Regions from separate parts of the Homo sapiens genome. Here all the other regions are reported to be linked to region 1. Evidence: microRNA targets listed by miRTarBase, many of them from high-throughput screens and not tested one by one. Region 1 holds a microRNA gene; each other region holds the end of a gene's coding sequence.
Evidence for each region. Region 1 holds the annotated microRNA hsa-miR-4471 (UGGGAACUUAGUAGAGGUUUAA, at 2,243-2,264, shown strand). A microRNA usually pairs through its seed, bases 2 to 8, with sites in the 3' UTR of a target mRNA and lowers its output. Matches are read on the target gene's strand: a 7mer-m8 pairs with bases 2 to 8, a 7mer-A1 pairs with bases 2 to 7 and ends in A, and an 8mer does both.

Region 2: miRTarBase lists SYVN1 as a target of hsa-miR-4471. Seed matches in the 3' UTR shown: 7mer-A1 at 4,321-4,327 and 7mer-A1 at 4,095-4,101.
Region 3: miRTarBase lists SERTAD3 as a target of hsa-miR-4471. Seed matches in the 3' UTR shown: 7mer-A1 at 800-806 and 8mer at 974-981.
Region 4: the mRNA of PISD is a reported target of hsa-miR-4471. Seed matches in the 3' UTR shown: 7mer-A1 at 4,359-4,365.

What each region holds. Positions count from the first base shown.
Region 1 is chr8:100,380,569-100,385,932 of GRCh38, forward strand. It overlaps MIR4471 (microRNA 4471), which reads left to right and starts at 2,195; the gene lies at 2,195-2,277. LOC124901991 (a long non-coding RNA gene) reads left to right here. Exons shown (of 2, transcript XR_007061030.1): 2 at 1,078-1,356. RefSeq lists an enhancer at 2,006-2,105.
Region 2 is chr11:65,123,894-65,129,049 of GRCh38, forward strand. SYVN1 (synoviolin 1) reads right to left here. Exons shown (of 16, transcript NM_172230.3): 15 at 4,670-4,821; 16 at 3,386-4,595. The coding sequence ends at 4,489. It overlaps MRPL49 (mitochondrial ribosomal protein L49), which reads left to right. Exons shown (of 4, transcript NM_004927.4): 2 at 609-759; 3 at 1,595-1,719; 4 at 1,833-3,478. The coding sequence ends at 1,979. Among named protein-coding and RNA genes, the nearest start is that of MIR6751, 3.5 kb to the right of the region's middle.
Region 3 is chr19:40,437,016-40,442,171 of GRCh38, reverse strand. SERTAD3 (SERTA domain containing 3) reads left to right here. Exons shown (of 2, transcript NM_203344.3): 2 at 86-1,328. The coding sequence starts at 92. The coding sequence ends at 682. Among named protein-coding and RNA genes, the nearest start is that of SERTAD3, 4.7 kb to the left of the region's middle.
Region 4 is chr22:31,614,741-31,619,896 of GRCh38, forward strand. PISD (phosphatidylserine decarboxylase) reads right to left here. Exons shown (of 8, transcript NM_001326411.2): 8 at 3,751-5,096. The coding sequence ends at 4,872. It overlaps SFI1 (SFI1 centrin binding protein), which reads left to right. Exons shown (of 33, transcript NM_001007467.3): 28 at 49-120; 29 at 308-539; 30 at 2,005-2,137; 31 at 2,260-2,338; 32 at 3,375-3,486; 33 at 3,574-3,848. The coding sequence ends at 3,678. Among named protein-coding and RNA genes, the nearest start is that of MIR7109, 4.2 kb to the right of the region's middle.

The DNA.
Region 1 (5,364 bases):
TAGTGTTCAATCAACTTACAAACTTAAAAACATTAAATTTCTTCAAACTGACCATCTTTATACATGTAAAAAGATTTCCTAAAATATTTTTAACTATCTTTACAAATTTAATAACTTTGACTTTCTCAAACACTTCAAATGCCTGATGGGGCAACATTTACAAACAAAGCAAGAAAAATCCTTCAATATCTCAATGAACTCTTGTAATAATACTAGTTTATACATGTAGTAAATTAGATTCTTCTGAATATTCAAACACTTTTAAAGAACATATTCAATTATTCTGCAACTTTCAAGTGAAAATTACAAATTGAGTATTAGTTTATCATTCCAAAATAAAATCGTAAGGCTAATATGTCAGATTATCTTAATCATTTTAAGCTGCTTAAATAACAAAAACAAGCTGATTGCAATGATTACAAAACTTACTCCTAAAGCTTAACACAAAGTATTGATACTATGAGTTTGATTGGCTTCAACGTCCATTTTCTACACCTTTTCCATTGAAACAAAGTTATTTTTACAAGTCAAGGGGAGCAAGAAGGTATTTCATGCAGGCTGGAGTTATTTGTATAACTGAGATACTGATGATCAGTTAGATTGTAAAACTGGGAGTTTTTCCAGGATGGTTTTATCCGAGCAACAGATTAAACACACTGAGCTTCCTTTTATAGTTGGCTTGGTTCTGCCTACTGTGTCACCAGGGAAGGAGTGTGCTATGTGTCCCCAGAGCATTTTTCAAATTTCACCCTCATCCTATTTTTATCATAACTTCTTTCACAATTTAACACATAATTTGGGTAGGTAGAATTCTGCAGACTACCTTGGCATGTAGTCTATCTTTTTGTTAACTGAATTTTCTCTCCCTCCTCAGGTTGTAAAATTCTTTTTCTTTTGCCTTCTTATCTGTTTCATTGTTGCAGAGATTGACTAAGTCTTCATCAAATCTGTTTTTCTTTGCTTCTTGGGCACAGAGCTAGACTCCATTTCCCAGCTTCCCTTGCAGTGAGTGTGGCCATGTGACTGAATTTGGGCCAATGAAATATGAGTGGCCTGACCCCCTATCCTCTTTTGCAGGCTTGATGCAGGGCAGCAGGGCAATCTTGGAAGCTCCATATTGAAGATGGTGGAGGCACAGTTTGAAAGGAGTCTGGGTTGGAGGAGAGCTACAGGCAGATCAGGAACACCCATCTTGGATTTGACCTGAGTGAAAAATAAACTGCAATCATTATGTTAAAACACTTACATATTTGGGGGGATTTTTTGTTTATCTTGTGAAAATGCTCATTAACCTCTATTGTCATAATAAAAATCCTTAAAGTTGGTGCTAAAAATAAATGCAATTTTGAAAATTCATGTGATGTTAGTTACTACTGCATATCCTGAGTCAACGCTAGAAAACATCAAGTGAAGCAGAGGGTGTATTATGGGACAGAGTCACTCTTGGATGTTACATAAAAATCTGACTGAATTAACTCAATCTTTTTTAATAGGAACTAATGTCATGTGACTTGTGTACCTTTTTAAATAACTTTTTTAAAAAGCAACCAAGAAAACAAAAATAAGCAGCCCATTGACAATTAAATCACCTACAATATTCATGAGATTAAAATAAACCTGTTGCTCAGTTACAAATATTTGGGCTCCCATGAGCAGACAGAAATTTTCCCCCAAGGGTCCTAATAAACAGGAAATTACATGATACAATAGACTCATATCCTTAGTAGACAAAACAATGTCAACTACCCAGACTCTCCTAAAGAAACCACACACACATGTTCAAGGGAGTAATTAAAAAAATTTAAAAACATAGGTTTCTTTTTTCTTCTAAAAAGTATACTTTTCTTTAAAATGGTAAGGGTGTATTAGTGCGATGAAGATCAATAAGGCCTCCATTTTTTTTTCTAGTTTGGTTATTTCACACTCTGCTTTTGGCATTTGAGGTTGCTAAGGTTATGGGTTTCTAAAAGTATTGTCCTTATGCACAAACGGACCTGTCATCAAACAGCTTTTGACCCTATGCAGTCAGAGTTTCCCTTTCCTTCTCCCACACCAACTAATTCTGCCATGTGTGGGTTGCAAGTGCACCAGGCAACAGTTTAATCTAAATGAAGTGATCACACATTAGATTTTGAAAATGAAACTTACTCATAAATATATTTCTTTCAAAATGAATTTTGTAAATCTTTTCCTTCCAAATTTAAAACTTAAACCTCTACTAAGTTTCCATGAAAAGAACCCATGGGAACTTAGTAGAGGTTTAAGTTTTAAATTTGAAGGGAAAAGAGTTATAAAATTCATTTTGAAAGAAATATATTTATGAGTAAGTTTCATTTTCAAAATCTAATGGTGCATGCCTGTAATCCCAGCTACTCAGGAGGCTGAGGCAGGAGAATTGCTTGAACCTGGGAGGTGGAGGTTGCAGTGAGCCGAGATCACGCCACTGCACTCCAGCCTGGGAGACAGAGTGAGACTCCATCTCAGAAAAAAAAATAAAAATGAAAAACCATGGGAACAATAAATACAGACTTTAGGCAGTGCTGAAATATACGGGAGAGAGACAAAGAGGACATGGTGGATATTTAGGTAGACGTATTAGAGTAAATACTAGTAAAGCAAAATTCTTTCCATGAACTATATCTGTTAGCAAAACTCTGACTAAAAGTAAATTCCACAAATAGGGGTTTATGTTTCTCAAACAACATGAAGGTTAAAAGTACAACAATGGTGCTGATTCATCAGCTCAGTGATGTGATGCCAGAGCTAACAATTTGACAGTTCTCTTGGCCTTTCCTTATCATAACAAGATGACTGCCTCAAGAAGGCTGCTGTGGCTCCAGGCATCACACCACTTTCAAGGAAGAGGAGAAGAAGGGGGTCACACTGGGAATATTTCCCCCTTTTATCAGAAAAGTAAAAGCTTTGTATGTGTAACTATGTCATATGTTTTTCCTAGCTGCAAGAGAGGCTGAAAAAAGCATTTTAGAATTGGAGGTAGGCAAGTGGCAATGAGAAGGTATATCAGCCCAACAACAGTGGGTGCCACTGAGTGCATGGCTGGCAGTACTCATGCTTTGTTGATCTCATTATAATGAATTCTTGAAGCCAGATAATGTACACAACACAGCATGCTTTCTCAGCCCACGTTCATATAAGAATCATGTAGAACTTCATGTTTTAGAGGAAAATAATGCTGAACATTCCCATTAATTATGTCTTGCCATCAAGTAAGTAGTGACTATCCTTCAGGCCATCTCCTCCCTCCCTATCTCAAACACTCAAATATTCACAATTAAATTCTACTTAAACTCTCCAAGAAAACCCACCAAATTACCCATGAACTTGGACGAGGAAAATCCTCCTGGTTCCTGAACATCACATCTATTCCAAAGAAGAATCTTCAAAGTCAGCTAGCAAAGAAATTGTAGAAAGTAACACATATAAAAAAGAAAATTGATCAGGCACAGTGTCTCACTCCTGTAATTCCAATGCTGGTGGAGGCCAAGGTGGGAGGATCACTTGAGGCCAGGAGTTCCAGACCAGCCTGGGCAACATAATGAGATCCTGTCACTGTGAACATTTTTTTGAAAAACCAAAACTTAGCTGTGCATGGTGACATGCCCTGGTAGTCCTAGCTACTTGGGAGGCTGAGGTAAGAGGATCAATTGGGCCCAGGAGTTTGAGGTTACAGTGAGCTATGATTGTGCCACAGCACTTCAGCCTGGGTGACAGAGAGAGACCCTATATCTAAAAAAAAAAAAAAAAAAAAAAAAAAGCAAGAAATAAAATTACACAAAAATTTTGAATGCCCAGTGTAACTTCCTAAAAGAGATCAGTGCTTTGAAACATGAAGTGATCTTTCTTACCCCTTTATACGGTGATAAATCATAGCATATCTAGAATGAGTCCAGCTGGATCACTGCTTTACCCATTATAAAGCCTCCATATTTGGGGACATTTTATAAAACAAGGAAAGCACAGCAACTTCCTGCTGAAATAGAGCAGTGGCCCACCCTCCCCACATGACCCACCGCCAGGCTTCCCCAGGCTCTGCAGCAAGGCAGCACATTATATTTAGCCATAGCTTAAATGGGTCTGGTTTACCTCTGATTCCAAGCGGCATGTGCAACAGGGTATGCTCCAAAGTGAACCGTGCTTCAGAAGAGTGGGTTTGGTTATCACAGGCTACATTCAGTTGCAATTAGCAGAATGTCTAGCAGAATTTCTCCTCTGTGATACGTGTTTATATTTAAGCAAAAGCACCAGTTACAGAGTGGCCACTGGTACCATGACATCTCTGAGTTATATCACTATTAAAGACCTGACCAGGGGTCATAGTATCCCAGCTGAGTCTGAAAGCAGGGCCCCCTGTTATGGGGCCTCTCCCACTAAAGAGGGAAAAGGGAGCCTGTACGGGGCAAAACATTTGGGCCACGTGGTGAGTTCGTACAATGAAGCCTCCTAGACCTGTGTGCTCCCCAGCTCAGATATGCCTAAGCTCTACTTCCAGGAGGAAACCTTAGGAGGGAAAGACTCTTATCTCTCAGCCTGGAATCTACTTTAAAAAGCCCACATATGTCACCATAAAAGGGGATGAAGTACTGATATATGCTACAATATGGATGAATGTTGAAAACACTATGCTAAGTGATAGAAGCCAGACACACAAGGTCATGTTATTGTATGATACCATTTGTATGAAATGTCCTCAGTAAGGAGATCTAACAGAAAGTGGATTAGTGGCTGCCAGGAACTGGAGGAAGGTGAGAATGGAGAATAACTGCTAATAGCTATGGGCTCCTTTTTTTTTCTTAATACTTGGTGTATTTTGAATGTTTACATTTAACAAATGAAAACTATTAGCAAAAATGATTCAATAATATTTTACTATTTACAAGGTACCTACAGGGATTCCTTTCCCAATTTTTTTCATTGTGGTATTTACCAAAATTATTTTTATTGTGGTAAAATACACATAACATACAATTTACTAACTTAACCATTTAAGTAGACACTTCAGTGGTATTAAATACCTTTATAATGTATGTAGCCATCTCCACCTGCCATCTCCGTGTCTCTTTTCTTCTTAGAAATTGAAATTCTGTGTCCATTAAACAGTAACTCCCCATTCTTCCCTCCCCACAGCCCCTGGCAACCACAATTCAACTTTCTGTCTCACTGACTTTGACAACTCCCCTCATATAAGGAGAATCCTACGGTATATATTTATCCTTTTGTGGCTGGCTTATTTCACTTAGCATACTGGTTTCTTTTTGGAGTGAAGAAAATGTTCTGGAATTAGAAAGTGGTAATAGTTGTACAATATAGTGAATGTTCTAAAACCCACTGAAGTGTACACTTTAA
Region 2 (5,156 bases), not on the chromosome of region 1:
TTGTTTTGTTTGAGAGAGTCTCGTCGCTCTGTCACCGAGGCTGGAGTGCAATGGTGCGATCTTAGCTCACTGCAACCTCCACCTCCTGGGTTCAAGCAATTCTCCTGCCTCAGCCTCCCAAGTAGCTGGGATTACAGGCATGCACCACCATGCCCGGCTAATTTTTGTATTTTCAGTAGAGATGGGGTTTCGCCATGTTGGCCAGGCTGGTGTTGAACTCCTGACCTTAGATGATCCTCCTGCCTCAGCCTCCAAGGTGCTGGGATTACAGGCGTGAGCCACCTTGCCCAGCCAGAAATATTTTTTTGTGTAAGGTTGAAGTGGCCTTTGTGCAAGGCTGTGGTTTTTGCAGTCTTTTGTGGTAGTTCTTGTTATTAAGTATTTGTGCCCAAGAACTCTCTCTTCGTGGCCCTCCCTAGCTCTATTTGTTGGGATTTTTAACCCAAGTGACTCACTCCATTTTGATTCTGATAGCTTTCACACCGTCGCCCAGCCTTTTATTTATGTCATTCTCTCTGCCTGTAATGTTTCCATTCTCTACTTACTGAAGTTATGCCATCCTGTGTTGGGTAGGCTAATGGAGAAATGGGATTTTTGTTTTGCTTCAGAGCCAGACCCAGGGCCCTCCAGATTACCCCAGGTTTGTGGAGTCTGTGGATGAATATCAGTTTGTGGAGCGCCTGTTACCGGCTACCAGGATCCCAGATCCCCCAAAGCATGAACATTATCCTACCCCTAGTGGCTGGCAGCCTCCCAGAGGTGAGCTGGGTGGTTAGGGATGATTTGAAAGCTTCACGGAGCATCACCTCCTCCCCAGAGGTTGGCCTCCCCCATGAGGCTCTGGACTCTCCAGTGGGTTCAGGACTCATTTTGCAATCCCTCTGGGTTACATCTGTCTCATGCCCAAGGAAGAGCCGAGGAGTGGAGCCTTCTGTTGTTCACTGGTACTCATCCATCCACACTATTGAGATCAGGTCTTCCCCATATGGGGGAAAGTAAACAACAGAGAGAAAACCCAAGAGCTTGGACCTTCTTTCCCCCCAGCAGACTATGTACTGTAATTAAGAACACAGCTTGGAGTCAGGCAGTTCTGGGTTTGAATTTGGCTTTATTTACTGTTGATGTTATCTTGAATTAGTCACTTAGCTTGACCCAACCTGTTTTAGCAAAATGGAGATAATCTGCTCAGTACATAGAGCCCTTAGTGCAGAGCCCAGCATATGGTAGGTGCTCAGTGCTTGCAAATCCCAATCTCTTTGTTCCAGAGATTGATTTCGGCCTCCCTGACCCAGTGGAGGAGGGCAAGGGTTGGCCTAGAGGGGGACCCAAAGATCCAGGGAGGCATGTCCCTGATTTCATTTTTTCTTGAGCACCTACTTAGTGCCAGGCCCTGTGTGGGGCCTTAGGGTACCAGGGTGAACAATTTGGTCCTGACTCCAAGCTGAAGGAAAGAGGAGACCCCCTGACCTAAAGTCTGGAGGTGGCTTGGTCCAGCTGGGTGCACTGGCCCTCTGCAGACTGAGAGCAAGGGCCTTGGCTGAGGTGGGATGGCACGTAGGAAGAGTTGATTTAACAGTGTCTTTCCCTGTTGCAGACCCCCCACCCAACCTGCCTTACTTTGTACGACGCTCTCGGATGCACAACATCCCCGTCTACAAGGACATCACGCATGGCAACCGGCAGATGACTGTGATCCGGAAAGTGGAAGGGGACATCTGGGTAAGTGGGTGGGTGGGTCTGGGACTGGGCCTGACCCTTTCAGGGCTGAAGGGACAGGAGTCTTTTTAAGGGAAGGGACTCTTGGCCTGACCTGATTTGTCATCTTTCCCCAGGCCCTGCAGAAAGACGTGGAAGATTTTCTGAGCCCGCTGCTGGGGAAGACACCTGTCACCCAGGTCAATGAGGTGACAGGTACCCTACGGATCAAGGGCTACTTTGACCAGGAGCTTAAAGCCTGGCTCTTGGAGAAAGGCTTCTGAGGCCCAGCCGAGCAGCCTGCTTGTCAGCATGCCCTGTGGATCAAGTCTAGGGGGCCTCAGGAGGAGGGAGGTGGGTGTTGGAGCCCCTGAGACAGGGGATACAGAAACTAGGGCTAAAGGACTTTGGGGTCAGGCCTTGCTTGCATAAAGGAGAAAACAACTCTATGTACATGCTGGGGGAGAGTGCCTAATGTGGGAGACCAAATAGGGATCACCAGGCTAATGGGGGGCGTCAGCAGCTTTCTCTCCCTCCTATCTTGGCCTGTTCTTTTTTGTTTTTTGAGACGGAGTCTCACTCTGTTGCCCAGGGTGGAGTGCAGTGGCATGATCTTGGCTCACTGCAACTTCCACCTCTGGGATCAAGGGATTCTCCTGCCTCAGCCTCTTGAGTAGCTGGGATTACAGGCGCCCACCACCACAGCCTGCTAATTTTTGTATTTTTAGTAGAGATGGGGTTTCACCATGTTGGCCAGGCTGGTCTCAAACTCCTGACTCGAAGTGATCCGCCCACCTTGGCCTCCCAAAGCGTTGGGATTATAGGCATGAGCCATGTGCCTGGTCCACCTTGGCCTGTTTTGTTTTTCTTTCCTTGGGCTCAGCAATTCAAATTCTAGTTGTTATTTGGTGGAAGCAGTAGCCCAACCCCAGTTTAGGGGAAGGTAGCACAGGGCAGAGCCACTGGGCACTTTGTTTCCTTGGCCCTCCGAAGCTCACTGTTGCAAATACCCCCAAGCCTTTGCTCTAGGCCAGATCTTGTTTGGTGCAGGTGATGGAGAACACAGATGACTCGGGCATGGGTCTTGGAGATCTTCTGTTCAAAGTACAGTGCTGGCACTGGGGCACAGAGTGCCCACGTTAGCCCCGGGCTCTGATAGAGAGGTAGGAGGCACGTTCTTGGTCACTGTTCCATTGCAGACCAGACTTGCTGGCCTGACCACAAGGGAGTGGCTGGGAACTCACAGCCAGCATAGGGACATCCCCCTGCAGCCTTCTGACCTGCAATCAAGGCTGGGGAGGGGTTTGCAGGCAGGAATATGCTGACCTTTCACCCTGCCATCCCATCCCAACCCCAGCTCACTAGCCTTCATATATGCCTTATACTTGGAGTCACAGGGGCCAAAGGCCTGAGACCCCACCCTGCCCCCAAACTGGCTAAGACAGCTTTCAGTTCCTGACTCCCCAACTTGGTCTCTGCCCTGAAGCAGGGCACTGAACTCTGGGCTGCTTCTCTGTGTGTAAAATGGGCACATCTTCCTAATCTGTTAATGGTCAGTGGTGTCCCCAAGGATAGTGCTGGCTTCCATGGAAACCCTCACTCCTGGAGATTCCATTCCATTTTCAAGTGTACAGCCACAGCAAGGAGCCCGACACTGATTTGATCGATTCTGTGACACAAACCCCACCAATTGTTAATGCAAGTTTTTATTTGGCTGTATATACAATTTAAGCTATTAAAATTTGTACAATATTTACAAATTAAATAATCATCTGAAACTGTCTCCAACAACTCTTGTAACACAAAACCAAGGGGAAAAGACAGGGGCAGGCAGGTCCCAGCTCCTGTGGTCCCTCCTTGGCACAGAGCCTTTTCTAAACTGGAAAGACCAGGAGTCTGGCACTCCTGTTCCTCTTTCCCGGGATTAAGCATTCAACTTCAAAAGACAAAATTTAAGCCAAAAGACACTAGTAAGGAAGTAATTCCAATTCTAAACTTCAGAAGTTCTGCCAGTTGAGAAGTGGCCTTCCTTGGGCGCTGGGATTGCAGTGGTCAGGAGCAGGCGCACTGGCCCTTGCCTGGAGTGCGGCTGGGCAGTGGCTGCTGGGTGAGACAGGTCAGTCTCACTTGAGAAGCTGCAGAGGAAAGGGGCCTGGGGGGAGGGGCGGGGCAGGGTCCCTCAGTGCTGCCCGCCTGCACCCCCACTCCCAGGCATTCCTTTCCCTGAGTTGTGTGGTTGCCAGTAAGACGCAGAAATGCCACAGGGCATAGGGGGCACAGCCACCACCACAAGAGGCTTCTGGGGAGATCAGGGTAAGAAAAGGAAATGGGTACCAGTCTTAGGGGTGGGCCAGCGAGCAAGTTCATAGCTTGCCTCCAGCCCCTCTGGAGTCCACACTTGGGAACGGGAGCTAATACTGTTCGGCACTGCAGTGTGACTCCGCACATACAAGTAGGGCTTGGAGGGGCAGCCCCTTCTCCTGGAAAGGGGTGGGGGAAGAAGAGGGCTTCTCAGAGGCTAAACCTTCTGCCTTCATGGCCCCAGCAGAACACAGGGCTGAAGAGTTGGAGAGGAAGGCTGGAACTGACCCGAGATCCCCATGGCTGCCTGGGACTGGAGTCAAATGGGAACCCCAGCCTCTTTCCACTTGGCCTAGGGGATGCCGCCTCTTTCTCAGAGCTGGGGGTACTACTCCCTGGTGCAGACAGAGAGGGAGCTGGCACTTGGTGGCAGGACATGTTCCAGCGAGGGCTGCTCAAAAGAGCAGAGGCTGGGGCTGGGCTGGGGCAGTGTCAGTGGGCAACAGGAGACTCCAGCTTCTGCAGGCGGCGCCGGCGGAGCTCTGCTGCATCGGGCTCTCCATCCTCAGGCATCTCCTCTGTGCCCACTGACTCAGGAGCTGGGGACAGAGAGACTGGAAGTGGAACCTAGAGAAGTTCCCTGCTCCCCCGGCTGGAGGCCAATCACACCTACCTGGAGGCCTTTCCATTTCAGGGGCTGGTGGGGAGGCTCCTGGGGTTGGGGTCGTGGCCTCTGAGCTAGGGATGCTGGTGGAGGAGGCAGCAGCAACAACTGTAGTGGCAGTCTCCTCAGTGGAGTTGACTGAAGTGGCAGGCCGGGGGGGCCTGGGAAGAGAAGGGACGAGAGGCGGGCCTGGCCTTGGCATCCAAGGTTGGGCAGATTCTCCTGCCCTTGGTGAGCCTTGCAGAACAGAGTATAGAATGATGTGCCCTTGTGGCCCCAGTGCCTGGCAAACACAAGTGAACATGCTGAATGAACTCAGACAGGGTGACTGGACTCAAGGGCCAAATGATTCTATCCCTTAGCTGTAAGGTGCTTGCAGGCAGGGACTGTTGACCTGTTCACTCTTACCCTGCAGTCTCCACCCTGGGGAGTCAGGCACCTTATAGGGGACTCACTCAATAAGCCACAGTGCTCGAGCCTTGGACTCAAGTTCCTC
Region 3 (5,156 bases), not on the chromosome of region 1:
TCAATAGGCCTGAGAAAGTGGGATATGAGCCAGCACTACGGTGTCTGGTGTCTGACCTTCCCCTATGCGCCTCTTCTCTCTACAGGGCATCATGGTGGGAGGCTTGAAGAGGAAACACTCTGATTTGGAAGAGGAGGAGGAGAGGTGGGAGTGGAGTCCAGCAGGCCTTCAGAGCTACCAGCAAGCCCTGCTCCGCATCTCCCTAGACAAAGTCCAGCGCAGCCTGGGCCCCCGAGCACCCAGCCTCCGCAGGCATGTCCTCATCCATAACACCCTCCAACAGCTGCAGGCTGCACTTCGCCTGGCTCCCGCCCCTGCCCTGCCCCCCGAGCCCCTCTTCCTGGGCGAGGAGGATTTCTCCCTGTCAGCCACCATTGGCTCTATCCTCAGGGAGCTGGACACCTCCATGGATGGGACTGAGCCCCCTCAGAATCCAGTGACTCCCCTTGGCCTCCAGAATGAAGTGCCACCCCAGCCTGATCCAGTCTTCTTAGAAGCTCTGAGCTCCCGGTACTTGGGGGACTCTGGCCTGGATGACTTCTTTCTGGACATTGACACATCTGCGGTAGAAAAGGAGCCTGCACGGGCCCCACCAGAGCCTCCTCACAACCTCTTCTGTGCCCCAGGTTCTTGGGAGTGGAATGAACTGGATCACATCATGGAAATCATTCTGGGGTCCTAAAACTGTGATAGAGGGGATCGATCCTTCCTCATGTCATCTTCGGTGGCCTGGATCCCTGAATGCAACTCTGGGTGTGTGTTTTTGTGGGGGCTCGAAGCAGTGACTATGGCCTCCTTTGTTCCCATTTCAGGGTTCCACAAACTGTCTTGCATGTGTGTGTGTGTCTGGTTACCCCGACCTTCTGTGAAGGTGGGTCTTCCTGAATTAATTTATCTATTCCAAATGCCTTAACGAGACTCTGTTTCTGGGAGTCTGATTTTCCACTTACACATTTCTTCCACCTTTCCTGCTAGTTCCCACTCCCCTGTGACCACTGGGGCCTCAGGGAAGATAAAGAAAGCTGGGCCTGTCGAAGGATGACAGGGATGTGCTGCCAGGTTGCTATAGAAACCCAGGCTCTGCCTCTTGCACCTTGAGGGGGTGGGAGGGGCTGGTGTCCTCCCTCCAGGCTGAACCCCACTTCCTCGGCAGGACCCCAGTCTCAGCAGCCTCCTGATTTCATAACCAGGCCGGACCACGTGCAATAGGGTGGAAACCAAACTGCTCCATGCCGGGTTATTTAAAAGAAAGGCAGAGTTTGTGGTGGCTTTTTTTTTTTTTTTTGGATTGTTTGTAATTTTTTTAAATAAAAGTATTTTGGAAGGAGGGATGTTGTCTAATGTTTCTAAACTTCACTGGGTCAGTGGGAGGGACCTGGTAAGTTCCTAAACATCAGCACCACTTCCGTGCCATAGCTGGGGTAGGTGTATCATTGTACATGACATTTATTGAGTGCTTGTTGGCTGAGTGCTCTAGCTCCCACTTGGAATCCTAGCACTTTGGGAGGATCTGCTTGAGGCCAGCCTGGGAAATGTGGCGAAACACTGCCTCTACAAAAAATACAAAAAGGAGCTAGGCATGGCGGCCTGTAGTCCCAGTTACTGGGGAGGCTGAGTTGGGAGGATCACCTGAGCCTGGGAGGTTGAGGCTGCAGTAAGCCATGGTCACACCACTGCACTCCAGCCTCAGAAAAAAATTAGTGCTTGTTAAGAGCACTGTTCTAGCCACTTTATTTGAATTAAGTCTGTTAATCCTCATATAGAAGTAAGTACTGTTACCACTTTTTATACAGGAGGAACCAGAAGTTTAGAGAGGACAAGTCACTTAATTCAGAGCCACACAGCTAGGAAGAACAAGGACCAGGGAGCTAGGCTGAAATGGCCTCCAGAGCCTTGTCCTTCACTATTATAAATGTTGCTTCTTAGACTAACCAGCCACGTGGGTGGGCACAGGAGGGAGAAACTGAGTCACACGGAGTATGTGTCACTGAATGTGCTGCTGAGCCCAGAGGGGCAAGAAAATGCCCAAAGACCCCCAGTACTAAAAGACCTCTTTAGGAGAGTTGGCTAGGAAGCAGAGCCCAGATTAGATTTATAGTGCTAATGCTTTTTTTTTTTTTTTTTTTTTGAGACGGAGTCTCACTCTGTCACCCAGGCTGGAGTGCAATGACAGGATTTTGGCTCACTGCAACCTCCACTCCCGGGTTCAGGCAATTCTCCTGCCTCAGCCTCCCGAATAGCAGTGACTACAGGTGCTTGCCACCACGCCCAGCTAATTTTTGTATTTTTTTTAAAATAGAGACAGTTTCACCATGTTGGCCAGGCTTGTCTCCAACTCCTAACCTCAAGTGACCCGCCTGCCTCAGCCTCCCAAAGTGCTGGGATTACAGGCATGAGCCACTGTGCCTGACCTGTGCTGATGCTTTATTTCGGAGGTACGAGCCCAGGCTGCTGAGATACAGGAGAGGAGAAGGAGGTGAAGGAAGTGAAGGAAGAGGTAATGTGATACCTGTACAGGCTATGCCTTTACAATGGTCTTTGAAGAGATGAAGCAAGTGAGCTACACAGCATTAGGGACTTTTCTGGAAGGGCTGCGAGGAGGAACAACACCTGAGTATAGTCCATGGGTGGAGAAAGGATGGGGATTTTGCTTGTGGTTTCTGGGTCAAAGCCAGATTTCTCAACCTGAAGGGGTCATTGTCAGAAAGTGGAGGGATAACCTGAAGAGGTGGGTGCCAATCCAGAGAGAGGAATGAGGTGGCCCAGAGGATCTAAAGAAAGCAACCAGGTACAGGCCAGGCGCGGTGGCTCAGGCCTGTAATTCCAGTACTTAGGGAGGCCAAGGCGGGAGGATTGCCTGAAGTGAGGAGTTTGAGACCAGCCTGGCCAACATGGCGAAGCCCTGTCTCTACTAAAAATACAAAAAATTAGCTGGGCATGGTGGCAAACACCTGTGGTCCCAGCTACTCAGGAGGCTGAGGCAGGAGAATCACTTGAATCCAGGAGGCACAGGTTGCAGTGAGCTGAGATCATACCACTGCACTCCAGCCTGAGTGACAGAGCGAGATTCCATCTCAAAAAAAAAAAAAAAAAAGCAACCAGGTGTGATACTTGCTGTGGAATTGTAAAAAATAAAAATAAAAGGTAAGCAACCAGGTCTGCATCCCAATATGATGGCAATTGAATCATGTCTTCCTCCTTGAAACCTTCAGTGCCTTTTTTTTTTTTTTTTTCTTTTGAGACAGGGTCTCTGGCTCTGTCGCCCAGGCTGGAGTGCAGTGGTACAATCACAGCTTACTGCAACCTCCACCTCATGGACTCAAGCAATTCTCCCACCTCAGCCTCAGCCTCCCAAGTAGCTGGGACTACAGGCACGTGGACCACACCTGACTAATTTTTGTATTTTTTGTAGAGATGGGGTTGTGCCATGTAGCCCAGGCTGGTCTTGAACTCCTGGAATCAAGCGATCCTCACATCTCAGCCTCCCAAAGTGCTGGGATTACAGGCATGAGCCACCACGCCCAGCCTCCAGTGACTTCTTGACACACTCAATAAAGCGCCAGCTCCACCAAGACCTGCAAGGACTGACTTATTCTCACTTCGGACAACTTTCTCAGTTCCATCTCCCACTCTCTCCATCACTCAACTGGGCTCCCTTGACCCCAGCTCCTTCTCACCCCAGGGCCTTTGCCCTAACTGTTAAATTTTCCCAGTGGACATTTTCCCCAATAGCTTCACCAATCCCAATATCCCCTTCTCAGGGAGGTCTTCCTTGCCCTTCCTAGCTCAACACATCCAGGTGGGTCACCACCCCACCACAACTTGTTTGATTTTCTTTCTTTCTTTTTTTTTGAGATGGAGTCTTGCTCTGTCTCCTAGAATGGAGTGTAGTGGCATGATCTTGGCTCACTGCAGCCTCTACCTCCCAGTTCCAGCAATTCTTCTACCTTAGCCTTCCGAGTAGCTGGGATTACAGGCACATGCCACCACACCTGGCTAATTTTTTTTTTTTTTTTTTGACACGGAGTTTTACTCTTGTTGCCCAGGCTGGAGTGCAATGACGCGATCTTGGCTCACCACAACCTCCGCCTCCTGGGTTCAAGTGATTCTCCTGCCTCAGCCTCTCGAACAGCTGGGATTACAGGCATGCGCCACCACACCCAGCTGATTTTGTATTTTCAGTAGAGACAACGTTTCTCCATATTGGTCAGGCTGGTCTTGAACTCCTGACCTCAGGTGATCCGCCCGCCTCGGCCTCCCAAAGTGCTGGGATTACAGGCATGAGCCACTGCACCTGGACTGATTTTGTTTTAGTAGCATCTACCCAATCTCGAGTTACTTATTTCCCATCTATAGGTAGCCTCCTACTCTCCTGGGAACTCTGAGGGTTGTGTTGGTCTGTGCCTAGAACTATGCTTGGCACAACTGCACTCTCCAAAATTATTTGTTGTTGAAGGGTCAGGCACGGTAGCTCACGCCTATAATCCCAGCACTTTGGGAGGCCAAGGCGGTCGGATCACCTGAGGCTAGGAGTTCGAAACCAGCCTGACCACCATGGAAAAACCCTGTCTCTACTAAAAATACAAAATTAGCCAGGCGTAGTGGCACATGGCTATAATCCCAGCTACTCAGGAGGCTGAGGCAGGAGAATCACTTGAACCCAGGAGGCGGAGGTTGTGGTGAGCTGAGATCGTGCCATTGCACTCCAGCCTGGGCAACAAGAGCGAAACTCCATCTCAAAAAAAAAAAAAATTATTTGTTGTTGAAAAACTTGGCCAGGTGCAGTGGTTCACGCCTGTAATCCCAGCATTTTGGGAGGCTGAGGCAGGAAGATCGCTTGTGTCCAGTTCAAGACCAGCCTGGGCAACACAGGGAGACCCCATCTCTACAAAAAACTAAAATAAAATTAGCTGGGCTGATGGCATGCCCTTGTAGTCCCACCTACTCAGGAGGCTGAGGTGGGAGGATCGCTCGAGCTCAGGAAATGGAGGCTGTGAGCAGAGATAACACCACTGCACTCCAGCACTCCATCTGGAACAGAGCAACAGAGGGAGGTCCTGTCTCAAAAAAAAAAAAAAAAAAAAAAAAAGGCCGGGTGCGGTGGCTCACACCTGTAATTCCAGCACTTTGGGAGGCCGAGGCGGGCAGATCACGAG
Region 4 (5,156 bases), not on the chromosome of region 1:
TGCAGCCCCTGGTCAGCCCAGGGGAACAGACCCCATGTTTCTTTCCAGCAACACTGCCCACTCAGCGAGGAAGCAGCCGCGACGCCCACACTTCCTGTTGGAGCCTGCGCAGAGCCAGAGGTCCCTGGGGTGCAGCACCGTGGGCAGGCAGGGGGAGATGGTCAGGGGTCCCCAAAGGCAGCGGGCACCTCCATGTGGGGCCTGTGTTTTGGCAGCCCTGGGGTGGGTGGCCCCCTTTCCTTCTTGTTCTTTGGTCCCAGAGGAGGGTCCTGTGGCCTGACCAGGCTCTTGCCTTCCCTGTGCTCAGGCCTCAGAAGCCACAGGAACATGGCCTAGGCATGGCTCAGCCAGCAGCCCCCTCCCTGACGCGGCCCTTCCTGGCAGAGGCCCCGACAGCACTGGTCCCACACAGCCCCCTGCCTGGGGCCCTGTCAAGCGCCCCTGGCCCGAAGCAGCCCCCGACGGCAAGCACAGGCCCGGAGCTGCTGCTGCTGCCTCTTTCCTCCTTCATGCCCTGCGGGGCGGCTGCACCAGCCAGGGTACGTCCTCCACCACCAGGCCTGGGCACTGGGGCTCTCACTCTGGTCTGACTTCTGGTGCTTTCTCATGCCACAGCTGTACTAGTTTCTGGAAAACCTTGGCACAGGGAGGCCACTCATCCATTTGACAAGCATAGGTAGCCACTGCACACCAGGTCCAAGGGCCACAGCAGTGAACAGCCAGCCAAGGGCCCTGCCATCCTGAAGCTTATATTCTAGTCAGAGACAAGCAAAGAAAAACCCCTGCCTGCAGGCCAGTAAAGTGGCTGCAGATCACGTAGGGTCCTGCAGGCCACAGTGAGAAGTAGCCTGGGATTTGAGAAGAGTAGGAAGTCGGGGAAGGGTTTTGGCAGGGAGCACCATGTCAGGTTTCTGTGCAGGCTGTGGTCACCATGACCACGTGGTCCAGGCAAGTAGTACTGGTGGCCTGGGCTCAGCGGTTGCCACAGAGGGGACAGGTACTCTCTTGGAGGCAGATGAGGCAGGATATGCTGCTCTGAGGGAGTTGCTGAATGAGGGGAAAGAAGGAATCCAGGCTGATGTGGGCTGCTGGCTTGAATAACTTGGGAAACAGAGTTCTTTGACTGGAAGAAGGAACTGGGGGTGGGGACTGGTTTGGGGTGAAGTGTCAAGAGTGTTTTGAACCAGGCTCTTGATGTCAAATTTGAGAGAAAGCAAACGTTGAGTCTGACCTTCAAGGAAGAGGTCAGGGCCAGAGATTGAGAAGAATCTTCAGCACAGGCCGAAGGTAACCCCAGAGCCACTGCGGCCTCTAGGAGGAGAGTACAGGGGAAGGAGAGAGGGGAGGAGGCTCCAAGCAGGGAGCCTGGGTGGGGATGGCCAGGGGGTGTGAGAGCTCAGTAATGGAAGTGACAGCTGCTCTAAGGCCACCAAAGCAGCTGGTTCCTGAAAGGGGATGAGGGGACAGGAAGGAACCAGTTCCTGTGGTGAGTTAGGCCATGTGGGGCCACTTACCCTGGCTGGAATGGTTTGAATGTGGGTTTGAAAGGGTTTTGACCCCTGTCCGGTGATGGAAGGGGCAAGTCCACTCTCACCAGGAGAGGAGGGCATGGAAAAGGCTGTAGAGCAGTGGCCTCTCACTGACCACTTCTCACTGATGTCAAAGCTCAGCAAGGTCATGAGCTTAGAGCAGGTGGGGGTGGAGGGTTGGGTAAGGCAAGGCTAGGAACAGCTGCTCAGGCAGTGGAGGCGTGAGGCGGACTGTGGTGACACGGGGTGCTCCCTGGTTGCTTGCGGGACTTTCCCCTACAGTACCAGGCCCTGTGTGCAGGGGCAGGCTAGACACTGAGCTGGCACGGCCAGTGCCTGGGAAGCCCAGCTCCTGCAGCTGGGAGCCTGGTCTTCCCCCACCCCTGCAGGGCAGGCAGTGACAAGGACTTGGTGTCCCCCTCCCTGGCTTCCTCCTAGCTTCCTTGCTCAGCATCTACCCTTCTTTCCTTTGCAGGTGTCAGCACAGCGGGCTACTCCTAGGGATAAGCCCCCGGTCCCCTCATCCCTGGCCAGTGTCCCTGACCCCCATCTACTCCTTCCTGGGGACTTCTCAGCCACCAGGGCTGGGCCTGGACTTTCAACTGCAGGTGTGTACCTGGGGCCTGTCAGGGCAGAAAGCACTCAGGCCACTCCCGGACCTGGGACTTGCTATTTACCCTGGTCCCCGAGGGGAAAATAGTCTGAAACAAGCTTACTTCTGTCGCCATAGGCAGCCTGGACCTTGAGGCTGAACTTGAGGAGATCCAGCAGCAACTACTGCACTACCAGACCACCAAGCAGAACCTCTGGTGAGCCCTGCGAAACGCCCTGCAGCCCTGGCTACAGGAGCAGGTGTTGCCTGGAGAGGTGGGCAGGCAGTTCCATTTCCCCCGAGCCAGCTGCCAGGGTCCTGTAGGTGGTCTCGGTCTAGCCATGGAGGGGTGTGGGGAGCCCTCAGTGTGTGCTGTCCAGAAAGACCCCATCTCCACCATGGCTCTCTACCCGGCTCAGTGCTGCTTAGGAAGGCCCAAGTCGTCAGACTCACCTGTGCACAGAGGCTCTGCTTCCTATGGGGGGGACGATAAAGTTGAGCAAAACTCTAAAAACCCGATGAGGCCATGCTGTCCCCAGTGACTAATTATAACACTGATATTAAAGGTGCAGAGAAGGGCCAGGCGCAGTGACTCACACCTGTCATCCCAGCACTTTGAGAGGCTGTGATCCAGGCAGATCACGGGGTTAGGAGTTCAAGACCAGCCTGGCCAATATGGTGAAACCCCATCTCTACTAAAAATACAAAAATTAGCCGGGCATGGTGGTGCACGCATGTAGTCCCAACTACTTGGAAGGCTGAGGCAGAAGAATCGCTTCAACCTGGGAGGCGGAGGTTGCAGTGAGCTGAGATCACGCCATTGCACTCCAGCCTGGGCAACACAGCAACACTCCATCTCAAAAAAAAAAAAAAATGCAGAGGAGACAGGCCCGTGACTCAGCTGCACTCAGTGGTCTGGGGACCATTCAACATGCAGCAACCTCAGAGCTTCCAGGGCAACAGACTGGCGCCTCATCCTTGGCTCTGCACAGGGGGAGAGAGACAAGGAGTGTGTTCTTGCCCAGGCCCACCTGAGTTGCTGTCTGCTGGGGAGGGCGGAGGAGACTGGGAGAGGAAAAAGAACAAGTGTTTGGCTCCCAAGCAGGGGCCTGCAGTTCAGGTCAGGGGCCCTACCAGACCACCTCTCTCCACCCGATACCCGCATCAGAATTAGCTGAGGTGCCTCTCCCTGAGCCGGATGGGGCTCTGCCAAGGACCCAGCCTGGCAGGCAGTGGGTATCTCCACCCCTCAGGTCCTGTCGGCGGCAAGCGAGCAGCCTGCGCAGGTGGCTGGAGCTGAACAGAGAGGAGCCGGGGCCTGAGGACCAGGAAGTAGAGCAGCAGGTGCAGAAAGAGCTGGAACAGGTGAGGCCCCAGGCCATCCCCAGGTGTCCCTGGGGACGCCCCGGGCTGTGCTCCCTCTCAGCCCTGCCTGTCCCTCCATGGCCCCAGGTGGAAATGCAGATCCAGCTGCTGGCAGAGGAGCTCCAGGCTCAGCGCCAGCCCATTGGCGCCTGCGTTGCCCGCATCCAGGCCCTGCGGCAGGCCCTGTGCTAGCGTGTTCGCACCAGGAACGCAGGTGCTGGGCTGTCGGGGAGGCCTCAGGCCACCTCCAGGAACAGAACACAGTTTTAAGTTTGATTTTTTTTATTTCAAAATGCTTTGCAATTAAATGAATTACTGTTCAGAAGTCTCCCACTTTTCATACAAAAATACTGTGCTACTGATACAGTTGAAAAAATTCAATGATGTCTCTCCTGCAGGAGAAATTCACAGCATCCCCAGGGTCAACATGAAATCTGGCCCTGTCCCCGCCACTGGGGGCTCCCCAGGCCTGCGTTCCTGATAAACTGGGACAGGTTTTCCAGGCACTGACCAACTATCCACCAAGGGTCCTCTGCCTCCAAGACAGACCCTGAATCAATAGCAGCAACTTTCCCATATTTCATGTAGGGATATGTGGAGGGGGACAGGAACTCTCCCATTTCCCCAGCTGGGCCTACTACCTGCCTGCCCTGTTCACTCTGGTGCCATGAGGCAGGTTCAGTGATTGATTGGTCTTGCCTGCTGCAGAGGACCTGGCCAGCTCCAGAAGGGTCACTCATCAGGTCCTGCAAAGGTCTGTATCATTAATCAGTGTCATCAGTGTCCTCAGAAGACACTAGCAGAGTCCAGGGTGATGCGTTCAGCCACAAGCACAAAGACTGCTTTTTCTAAAGAGCAGGATGAGGTGAATGTGGGAACGGAAAGCAGTTGTCACGAAGGCTGTGTGGCTCTGCTGGGGGAGAGGCATCCACAGTCTGTGCCAAGGAGGCACCTCACCCTGTGCAGCAGGAGCGTTAAGGCCAAAAAACAAAAGGGGCCAACAGAAAACAGCTCAGGTGATGGGGGGAGGAGCAGCAAGAAAAAACGACAACCGAGACCAACTGAAGGTTCGGTCAGGAATGCAGGCTCTTCCGTCTATACAGTGTTTAAAAAGATCCAAATGTGACTGAGATCATTCCAGCCTGCACTTTTTATTTGTAGGCAGAAGGAACGGGATAGGTTGAGGGGCATGATGGGGGCTCTCGCCACCTCTTGTCTGCACCTCTGGAACAGGTGGTAGCCGAATCATTCAAGTCCTACCTGGTCAGACTCCCAACCACGCTGAGGCAGGCCCTTACCTGGATGGCCTCATGGGCCTCCCTCTTGAAAAGACCCTCACTCTGTTTGGAAAAGATCCCTTAGCAGCCATAATCAGGAAAGAGACTCTAGAGCGAGCCCAGGGCTTCCCCAAAGCGGATTTTCTGTCCTGTTTTCAGCTGGAAATTGAAGTCCTTGGGGGCCTCGAAGATGAGCACGATGGTGGAGCCCAGGTTGAACTCGCCCAGGTGCTCGCCCTTACGCATGGGGACGCCCTCTCTATTGGTGTGCGTCACGAAGCTGAAGTCATTGTAGGAGCCCTTGCTGTGCCTTGGGCTGTTTGTGTGCAGGTCCTGTGGTGATAGGCTGGGGGTCAGTGGGGCCCAGGCCACCAAGTGCACAGTGTCACCCCC